Linked DNA regions of Homo sapiens. The protein of the gene in region 1 purifies or fractionates together with the protein of each later gene. This does not show direct contact. Each region holds a gene or a part of one and is shown in the gene's direction. Other genes may lie near its edges. The genes, in order: PTH2R, ACSL1 and NAV1.

What was found.
Region 2: the proteins of PTH2R (region 1) and ACSL1 purify together in Homo sapiens (co-immunoprecipitation; one large-scale study listed by IntAct). This does not show direct contact.
Region 3: the proteins of PTH2R (region 1) and NAV1 purify together in Homo sapiens (affinity purification with mass spectrometry; one large-scale study listed by BioGRID and IntAct). This does not show direct contact.

The regions. Positions count from the first base shown.
Region 1 is NC_000002.12:208,405,145-208,408,901, forward strand, and holds the start of PTH2R (parathyroid hormone 2 receptor isoform 1 precursor), read left to right. Parts: upstream 1-1,647; 5' UTR 1,648-1,899; coding exon 1,900-1,974; intron 1,975-3,757. UniProt on the Homo sapiens protein: This is a specific receptor for parathyroid hormone. The activity of this receptor is mediated by G proteins which activate adenylyl cyclase. PTH2R may be responsible for PTH effects in a number of physiological systems.
Region 2 is NC_000004.12:184,754,941-184,757,534, reverse strand, and holds the end of ACSL1 (long-chain-fatty-acid--CoA ligase 1), read left to right. Parts: intron 1-269; coding exon 270-410; 3' UTR 411-1,940; downstream 1,941-2,594. UniProt on the Homo sapiens protein: Catalyzes the conversion of long-chain fatty acids to their active form acyl-CoAs for both synthesis of cellular lipids, and degradation via beta-oxidation. Preferentially uses palmitoleate, oleate and linoleate.
Region 3 is NC_000001.11:201,545,627-201,549,283, forward strand, and holds part of NAV1 (neuron navigator 1), read left to right. Parts: intron 1-3,657. UniProt on the Homo sapiens protein: May be involved in neuronal migration.

The DNA.
Region 1 (3,757 bases):
TGCATTAACTGGTTAGGTACTTGGAGAAATTGTTACATTACCTAAAAAATTGATACTTTAAAACATTAAATTATTTATTTAATGTTTGAAACAGTAAAATTATGAAACGGTAGAAAAGAACTAGAAAAAAGATCTGATGAAAAGATTTTCTAATTTTTAGTATGCAATTCCTTTCTCGCATAAAAGCTAAGGAAGAAATTATAAAAGAAAAGACTGCTAGATTTAGATACATAAATTTAAAAAACCCTCCGCACTGATCAAGATATTATAAATTAGGCCAAAAACAAAGTTGAAAAACATTTTGGTATTTATGTCAGAAAAATATTTTATATTGTAAACATAGACAGTGCTTTTCTACATAAATAGGGAATACTCAAACTTACCACAGCCCTTTGCCCATTCACAGACTATGATCACAATAATAATAATAATATTCATCATCACCAAACAATGCTAACGATACTAGCTAATACTTATTGAGCATTTCCTTGGACTTTATGTTTGTTTACTCACTTAACTTTTCCAACAAAATTTTGAGGGACAGCAGTGGGCTGAATGTTTATGTTCCCCCAAAATACATATGTTGAAGTTCTAGTCCTTAAGGTGATGGCTTATTAGGCATGGACTTTGAGAGGTGATTTGGTCATGAGGGCTCTGAGATCAGTGCCCTTATAAAAGAGACCTCAGAAAAATCCCTCATCCCTTCTGCCATGTGAGGTTGCAATGAGAAGACAGCAGTGGTCAATGAGGAAGCGGGCTTTTATCAGACACTGAATCTGCCAGCACTTTGATCTTGGACTTCCCAGCCTCCAGACTGTGAGAAATAAATCTCTGATGTTTATAAGCCACCCAGTTTATGGTATTTTGTTATAGCATCCAGAGCTGATTAAAGGAGGTTCTCGCATTTCTCCCATCTTACAATTGAGGAGATTAAGACAAAGAGAGGCCAGTATGTAATTTGCTCAGGGTTATGCAGCTAGCACATGGCAGAGCCAGAATTCAAAGGCTTTCTTCCTTCAAGAGGCAAGAACAAGAGATTTTAAAAGGTTGTAATACAATTGGCCAATGAATGTCTAAAATAGTCAAACTTAAAAATAAACTAAAAAAAAAGAATATTAGTTGTCTTTTTTTAATGCCAGGATTCAAAGCACAATACCACACAAAGAACTTTTGACCCACAAGAAATATATACATTATTTCTACTTAACACACACCGAGTATTATTATAATGGTTAGGAGAAAATGAATCAGAGCATTTTAGAGAGCTTTAGGACTGTCCAGCGAACAGCCCAGACGCAGGGCCTACCTGGCCTCGGGAGCCTTTAGCCATCTTATCGCTGTCCTCGGGGCCGATGGTCAGCGCACGCAGGACAGGAAGAAACTTCTGGATCACTCCTGGAAGACCCAGGGCGCCCCTAGAGACAGGGCCCTGGAACCCGGGACAGAGTGGAGGGAAGCAGAAACATTGCGAATCGGGGGTGGCGGCAGCAGCGACATGAGATCCTTTGCCCTCCGCCCCCTGGGCTGCGGGACCCAGTGACTTCGAGGAGGAGCGCGAGCGCAGCCGCGCGGGGCGCACCCGGATCCGCCTGGGGCGGGAGCCGCCCCCTTCCCGCCGCAGGCGGCGCGGGGCTGCGAGTCAAGTCCAGGACTCGGGCCAGTCTCTCCGGAAGACAAGACCAACCTCGCGCCGCGGCGCAGCAGCACGCGGGTTCTGAGAAGCGCGTGGCTCCGGCGACAAGACCCCAAGCACCCTCGGCCGGTGGCCCGGGCCCGACCACCCCAGCTGCGCGTCGTTACTGGCCACAAGTTTGCTCTGGGCCAGCCAAGTTGGCAACTTGGAAGCTTCTCCCGGGCTCTGGAGGAGGGTCCCTGCTTCTTCCTACAGCCGTTCCGGGCATGGCCGGGCTGGGGGCGTCGCTCCACGTCTGGGGTTGGCTAATGCTCGGCAGCTGCCTCCTGGCCAGAGCCCAGGTAAGAGCCAGTGCTCCGCGACACCTGTTTTCGCGGAGCCTCCGGCGGGGACTCAGCTTTAGCGACACGGAGGCCAGGTGCGCGCGAGAGCTCATTCATGTTCACACGTCCACAAACGCCCCGGCACGCACCGAGGCGTACCCGGCAGGTGCTGGCAGGCAATTAGTGGAGGGAGCTTCAAAGATCTGCTTTAGTGGAGTGATGTCCTGGGGCCGGCACTGTTTAGACCAGCATCCTGGCATCCGCAAAGTAAGGGGATATTTCCGAACAGCGGAGTCGTGGATCAAGAGTGTGAGGCTGGGAAGGTGAAGGAACTTTTCTTACTCTTAAACTCCGTGGTCCCCATTTAATTAATCGAAATGACTTTTGTCTGCTGGTAATTTACCATCGCTTTTGAGAATTTAAATTTACAGGATCGATTGTGACCACTATCTGAAAGAATAATTGGCTGTCTGTGATACAGAATCACATACATTCAAGTTAGGAGACAGAATAAAAATACCAAAATACAGCTCATTTGTTAATGTTAAGCGGTGGCTGTCACTTTTGTACTGCTAATATCATTTAGAGATTTTCTGGGCGATCTTTCACAATGAAGCCTCTTTAATGTGCAAGGCACAATTCATACGCACTTTTTTTTTTGAGTCAAATCAAATGTAGGGTTTACAGTCAGCTTTTCAGATGAGCTAGAGAGATGCGTGTAGTGGTGGATGTTATGCAGTTCAAGAGCCCTGTGAATTTAAACCGAATCAAGGTATTTCTCTCCGGTTCGGTAGGGGGTGCACCTAGACCGTCAAATGAAGGCCCAATAAAAAATTATTTCACCGTGAGAATTCAAAGCAGTGATTTATGTGTTGATACTGTCTAAACTTAATACTATGTTCTCGGCTTTCAGATGACTAGTTTAAATTTCAATTATTCTAAAAGTGCAGTTTAAAAAACCTATCTGTTAAAGTCATAACCAGAGACATTAAAACTTAAAGGGGATTTCTAGGCTAGGTGCCACGCTAAAAGTGGGCTTTACTTAACATGACCAAGATGTTTCATGTAGATTTATTTTGTTAATAAATAAATTTTGTTAATAAACTAAACAATTTGTGTGTCATACATTGACTAATAATATTAGCAATGGATAGCTGAAAGTAAGATACACTTAAACCTGAAAAAATTCATCAAGTTACCAGAAGGAATATGAATGCATGGAAAAAAATTTGGTGATAAATTTCCATGATCGTTATAGAACTCTGGTAATCTCTACTATACTTCCTACATTTTTATCTCATAAGATATTTGGATAATATGCTTAAAAATGGCATCTTATATACAAGAGGCAACTGAACTCTAACCGTTTATTTTATTTAGTGTTCTAGATTACTTTTTGTAAGGAAATGGGGAGGTATTATTTAGTACAATAAGAAAAAAAAAAGGCTTGGTGTGGTGGCTCACGCCTGTAATCCCAGAACTTTGGGAGACGGGAGGATCTCTTGAGCCCAGGAGTTCGGGGCTGCTCTGAGCTATGATCATGCCACTGCACTCCAGCCTGGCAACAAAGTGAGACCCTGTCTTGAAGGAAGGAAAGAAAGAAAAGAAAGAGAAGAAAGGAAAGAGAGAGAGAGAGAGAAAGAGAGAGAGAGAGAGAGAGAGAGAAATAAATAATAAATAAATCACCATGGGATTGTGGGCAGAATATTTTCTTTTGCTTTCAATAAAACAATCAGGACATTGAATACTTCTATAACTTTAAACCAGGATTTCCCAACCTTGGCATTGTTGACATTTTGGG
Region 2 (2,594 bases), on another chromosome or scaffold:
ATACATGAGGAATAAATAATGGAGTAGTTTGACAGGGGAAAGGTTTTTAAATCAAAAGCATTTATTCTCTTTTCCTGGATATCAGAATATGATCCCGAATCCTATCCTAAGAATAGGATGCCTGTCCTTTGTTGAGAAGGTGCAGCTTGGCTGAAATGAGAGGATGGATTGGATGGCTGGAGAGTGTTGATCCCCTCCAAGGCTTACGTGCTTTTGAGACTGGTGGCCCGTGTCCTTTTTCCTCTTTTAACTGCCTTGTTTATTGGCAGGTCAAAGGCATCACATTGCACCCTGAATTATTTTCTATCGACAATGGCCTTCTGACTCCAACAATGAAGGCGAAAAGGCCAGAGCTGCGGAACTATTTCAGGTCGCAGATAGATGACCTCTATTCCACTATCAAGGTTTAGTGTGAAGAAGAAAGCTCAGAGGAAATGGCACAGTTCCACAATCTCTTCTCCTGCTGATGGCCTTCATGTTGTTAATTTTGAATACAGCAAGTGTAGGGAAGGAAGCGTTCGTGTTTGACTTGTCCATTCGGGGTTCTTCTCATAGGAATGCTAGAGGAAAGAGAACACTGCCTTACAGTCACCTCATGTTGCAGACCATGTTTATGGTAATACACACTTTCCAAAATGAGCCTTAAAAATTGTAAAGGGGATACTATAAATGTGCTAAGTTATTTGAGACTTCCTCAGTTTAAAAAGTGGGTTTTAAATCTTCTGTCTCCCTGTTTCTCTAATCAAGGGGTTAGGACTTTGCTATCTCTGAGATGTCTGCTACTTGCTGCAAATTCTGCAGCTGTCTGCTGCTCTAAAGAGTACAGTGCACTAGAGGGAAGTGTTCCCTTTAAAAATAAGAACAACTGTCCTGGCTGGAGAATCTCACAAGCGGACCAGAGATCTTTTTAAATCCCTGCTACTGTCCCTTCTCACAGGCATTCACAGAACCCTTCTGATTCGTAAGGGTTACGAAACTCATGTTCTTCTCCAGTCCCCTGTGGTTTCTGTTGGAGCATAAGGTTTCCAGTAAGCGGGAGGGCAGATCCAACTCAGAACCATGCAGATAAGGAGCCTCTGGCAAATGGGTGCTCATCAGAACGCGTGGATTCTCTTTCATGGCAGAATGCTCTTGGACTCGGTTCTCCAGGCCTGATTCCCCGACTCCATCCTTTTTCAGGGGTTATTTAAAAATCTGCCTTAGATTCTATAGTGAAGACAAGCATTTCAAGAAAGAGTTACCTGGATCAGCCATGCTCAGCTGTGACGCCTGAATAACTGTCTACTTTATCTTCACTGAACCACTCACTCTGTGTAAAGGCCAACAGATTTTTAATGTGGTTTTCATATCAAAAGATCATGTTGGGATTAACTTGCCTTTTTCCCCAAAAAATAAACTCTCAGGCAAGCATTTCTTTAAAGCTATTAAGGGAGTATATACTTGAGTACTTATTGAAATGGACAGTAATAAGCAAATGTTCTTATAATGCTACCTGATTTCTATGAAATGTGTTTGACAAGCCAAAATTCTAGGATGTAGAAATCTGGAAAGTTCATTTCCTGGGATTCACTTCTCCAGGGATTTTTTAAAGTTAATTTGGGAAATTAACAGCAGTTCACTTTATTGTGAGTCTTTGCCACATTTGACTGAATTGAGCTGTCATTTGTACATTTAAAGCAGCTGTTTTGGGGTCTGTGAGAGTACATGTATTATATACAAGCACAACAGGGCTTGCACTAAAGAATTGTCATTGTAATAACACTACTTGGTAGCCTAACTTCATATATGTATTCTTAATTGCACAAAAAGTCAATAATTTGTCACCTTGGGGTTTTGAATGTTTGCTTTAAGTGTTGGCTATTTCTATGTTTTATAAACCAAAACAAAATTTCCAAAAACAATGAAGGAAACCAAAATAAATATTTCTGCATTTCAGGTGAGTGAGGCATCTTTTTTAATGTCATGTTTAATATTCGGAACAGCCTGTAATGTGCACAAGCGAAGAGCAAGAATGGCCCTGGGCCTGGAATCCTTCCCAGTTGTCTTCTTTTCTTCTTAGTCACCCTCCTCTAACTCAGCTGGCCTCAGGCACTGACAGACACTGACCCGAGCCTCCCACCAGGTTGTCTGTGGCAAAAGTCCTAACTGGTTGTGGAAAAGAAAGTCATGGTGTGAATAACAGAGAAGGTCCTGAAAATGCAGCTTCCTTGCTGGAAAATGTATTTCAGGCGACGCTGGCTGTAACTGGTGATTCCGTGGTGAATGTAATCCCACTATTGTATTTTAGCACTGTTTAGTCATTCTCTTACTGTAGAATTATTTCAGATGTCTCTTTATAGCAGCCAACTTTTTCTTGTTTCTTTTCTTCTATCTCCACCCTATTCCTTCTGTTACCATTTTAAAGATTTTCTTTTCCACAGGTATTAATGAATCAACCCCCTAATTTCTTCCAAGCCTGTTGTGTTTAAATCTAGTTTCCTGTCTTAAATTCTGTTTGGTGTGATGATGTGTACATCAAGCCATGTGCAGATGCTATCTTGTCCATTCTTCCACTTTTATTTATTAAGATCCTTATCTTAGCAGGGGGCAGTGGC
Region 3 (3,657 bases), on another chromosome or scaffold:
CTTCTTTGAAGGTGTCATGTCCAGAGTGAGGTGCACCACTCCATTTATGAGCTTACTGGCACAGGTTAGCCATAGGCAGATCACCTATTTATTATCAGATAGACAAAGCAGATTTTCTTTTCAATTTGTAGATTGCCCCTGAAAACCAGAGAACTGGGCTGATGCAGAAGGGATAAATGAAGGCATAAAGGAACGAGTCTGACTGTATCTTTGCTCTTTACTGTTTGTTGTTTAGTTATTTCATCTGGTTTTGGTGTTATCTAATTTTTTGGTAGACTTCAAGCATAGCATAGAATAGGTCCATAATAAAGGATTTCAAGAGTCAGTTACCAGTGCCTTTTTCCCAGTTCATTGGTGCAGATAATTGAGTTGACTGGGAAGGAGTATCTGGGTTCTGGGTAATGCCAAGATACCAACTGCTCTCTTCCTGCTTTTCCTTTAACAAAGGAGAGACAGCTGATGAGACACACGGTTAGGGGGCCCCAGCCAGGACCCATACGAAGCAGCTGCCTGCCTTTGTCTCTCATCTGGGACCATTCTGTATGGCCCCTCTGGCTCTCCTTCCCCAGAGCTTCAGGAAGAGGGCTGGATTGCACGGCATACCCTGCACTATTGCGTGCTGCCCGTTGGACCCTGGCTTTTTGTGCTCTTCATCGCCCTCTGGGTATAGTTCGCTTTACCAAGTAGATTTAGAAGGTGTCAGCCACACTTACCCCTACCTCACTGGGTGAGTCTGTGGAAGCTGCACCCTCAGGGCCCATGCGCAGTTCCCAGGGGGAGGGGAAAGGGCCACATGACAGTTAAGGTGCTTTCCTATGGTGCAAGTTCCCCCACACACAAGGTTTTATTTTGAAAACCGTCAGATAAGTAGAGAAGGTGAAAGACTGACTAGTACGATGAATGTCTACATTCACTGATTGTTGACATTTTGCTAGATTGCTCTGTATATAGATCAATCTATATAATATTTTTCTGAGCCACTTAAGAGTAATTTGTTGCCAGGCCCAGTGGCTCACACCTGTAATCCCAGCACTTTGGGAGGCCAAGGTGGGTGGGTCACGAGATCAGGAGATCTAGACCATCCTGGTCCAACATGGTAAAACCCCGTCTCTACTAAAAATACAAAAATTAGCTGGGCATGGTGGTGGGTGCCTGTAATCCCAGCTACTCAGGGGGCTGAGGCAGGAGAATCACTTGAACCCGGGAAGCAGAAGTTGCAGTGAGCTGAGATGGCACCACTGCACTCCAGTCTGGGAGACAGAATGAAACTCTGTCTCAAAAAAAAAAAAAAAAAAGTAATTTGTTGACATCATGATACTTAACCCTTCAACACTTAAGCATGTTATTTCCAAAGAACAAGGACATTTTTTTTTTTTTGAGATGGAGTTTCGCTCTTGTTGCCCAAGCTGGAGTGCAATGGCACGATCTCAGCTCACCGTAACCTCCGTCTCCCGGGTTCAAGCGATTCTCCAGCCTCAGCCTCCCGAGTAGCTGGGATTACAGGCACGCGCCACCATGCCCGGCTAATTTTTTTGTAATTTTAGTAGAGACGGGGTTTCTCCATGTTGGTCAGGCTGGTCTCAAACTCCCGACCTCAGGTGATACGCCCACCTCGGCCTCCCAAAGTGCTGGGATTGCAGGTGTGAGCCACCGCACCCGGCCAAACAAGGACATACTTCTATGAAGCTACAGCACCACAATCATACCCGTTAGTACTGGATTTAACAGAATTGTTTAATATATGGCCAGAATCAGATTTTCCAGTAGTTTCCCAAATGCCTTTTTGAGAGTGCTGTATACTTTTTCTCAACCCACAGCCTGCTCAGTTAAGGCCTAAATTGGAATTTTCTCTCTCAGCAAAAGGGAAATAAGGTCATGATCCCTAAAATTGGGATAGTGAACCACGGGAGGAGAAGCACTTTGACTTATATCATTTCATGTAATCGTTCCAACAACTTAGCGAGATAGGTACTAGTATTCTCTCCATTTTACTGGTTAGGAAATTGCAGTTCAGAGAGTTATCTAAGTTGCCCAAATAGTATGAGCCATTATTACCACTCCATGCTGCATGTCATATGTAATGATAGAAAAATAAGAGATTATATTTGTAAAAACCTGCGTCTTTTACATTCCACACATTCTGTATCCTCTTCACTAGGTCTTTTTTTAAATTACTATTATTTTTTGAGACGGAGTCTTGCTCTGTTGCCCAGGCTAGAGTGCAGTGGCATGATCTCGGCTCACTGCAACCTCCACCTCCCAGGTTCGAGCAATTCTCTGTCTCAGCCTTCCGGGTAGCTGGGATTACGGGCACCTGCCACCATGCCCGGCTAATTTTTGTATTTTCAGTAGAGACGGGGTTCCACCATCTTGGCCAGGCTGGTCTGAAACTCCTGACCTTGTGATCTACCCACCTCGCCCTCCCAAAGTGCTGAAATTACAGGCGTGAGCCACTGTGCCCAGCCCACTAGGTCTTATGAGGTGTTAGCACATGCTATGCTGTCCCCATTTGACAGAGGAGGAAAGTGAGGCTCTAAGGCTGGGATTTAATAATATTTATGTAGTCATGATCATGTAAATGACATTTACTGATAGTCTTTATGCAGAGCTCAATATACTTAGTTGTGGTTGCTGGGCAGGCTGTAAATAGCTATCAATAAAGGTGTAACTGCCAAGGCAGGAGGATTTCTTGAAGCCAGAATTCAAGACCAGCCTGGGAAACCTAGCAAGACTCACCCCCCAATCTGTACAAAACATTAAAAAATTAGCTGGGCATGATGGCACATGCCTATAGTATGGTCCTCCTGCCACAGCTACTTGGGAAGCTGATATAGGAGGATCGATCACTTGATCCCAGCCAGGAGTTTGAGGTTGCAGTGAGCTATGATTGCACGACTGCACTCCAGCCTGGGTGACAGAGCAAGATCCCATCTCTTAAAAAAATAAAAATAAATAAATAAGTGAATAAAGGTGTTATTGACTGAAGAAGAGAGGTAGAAGAGGGAAAAGGAGGGTCTCTAATACTCTCCTCTTCTACTGAGGGGATTCAAGAGTCTGTCAAAGTGTTAGAAAACAAGAAACCAAATTTTAAGATCAAAGGTACAAGATAACTCATAAAAGTAACTAAAATCAAATATTGGGAGGAAGAAAAGGAGAAAGAGAGTCGGGTTTAGTGTAAGTGCTCTAAACTTGTCTAACTCCTTTGGTAATGATAGATATTGTCTACAGGTGACAAAACAGGGAATAGTTATTAGTATGTTATCTAGAGTTTACGTGGATAACCACCAAAGGAGCTAATAACAGAAAACTATTTGGACAATAGAATGGAGTTGGGAAGAGGTGGGACAGGAAACTGTTGCTTGTTATTATAAGGTCTTCTGTACAATTTGATGGTGACCACCCAAAACAGTAGTGAGGAAGGCAGGCTTTAAATTCAGATATTCTAGTTTTCTCTTTCTTTCTTTCTTTCTTTCTTTCTTTCTTTCTTTCTTTCTTTCTTTCTTTCTTTCTTTCTTTCTTCTTTCTCTCTCTCTCTTTCTTTCTTCCTTCTTTTCTTTCCTTCCTTCCTTCCTTCTTTCTTTCTTTCCTTCTTTCTTTTTTTGACAAAGTCTCACTCTGTCACCCAGGCTGGAGTGCAGTGGAACAATCACAGCACAT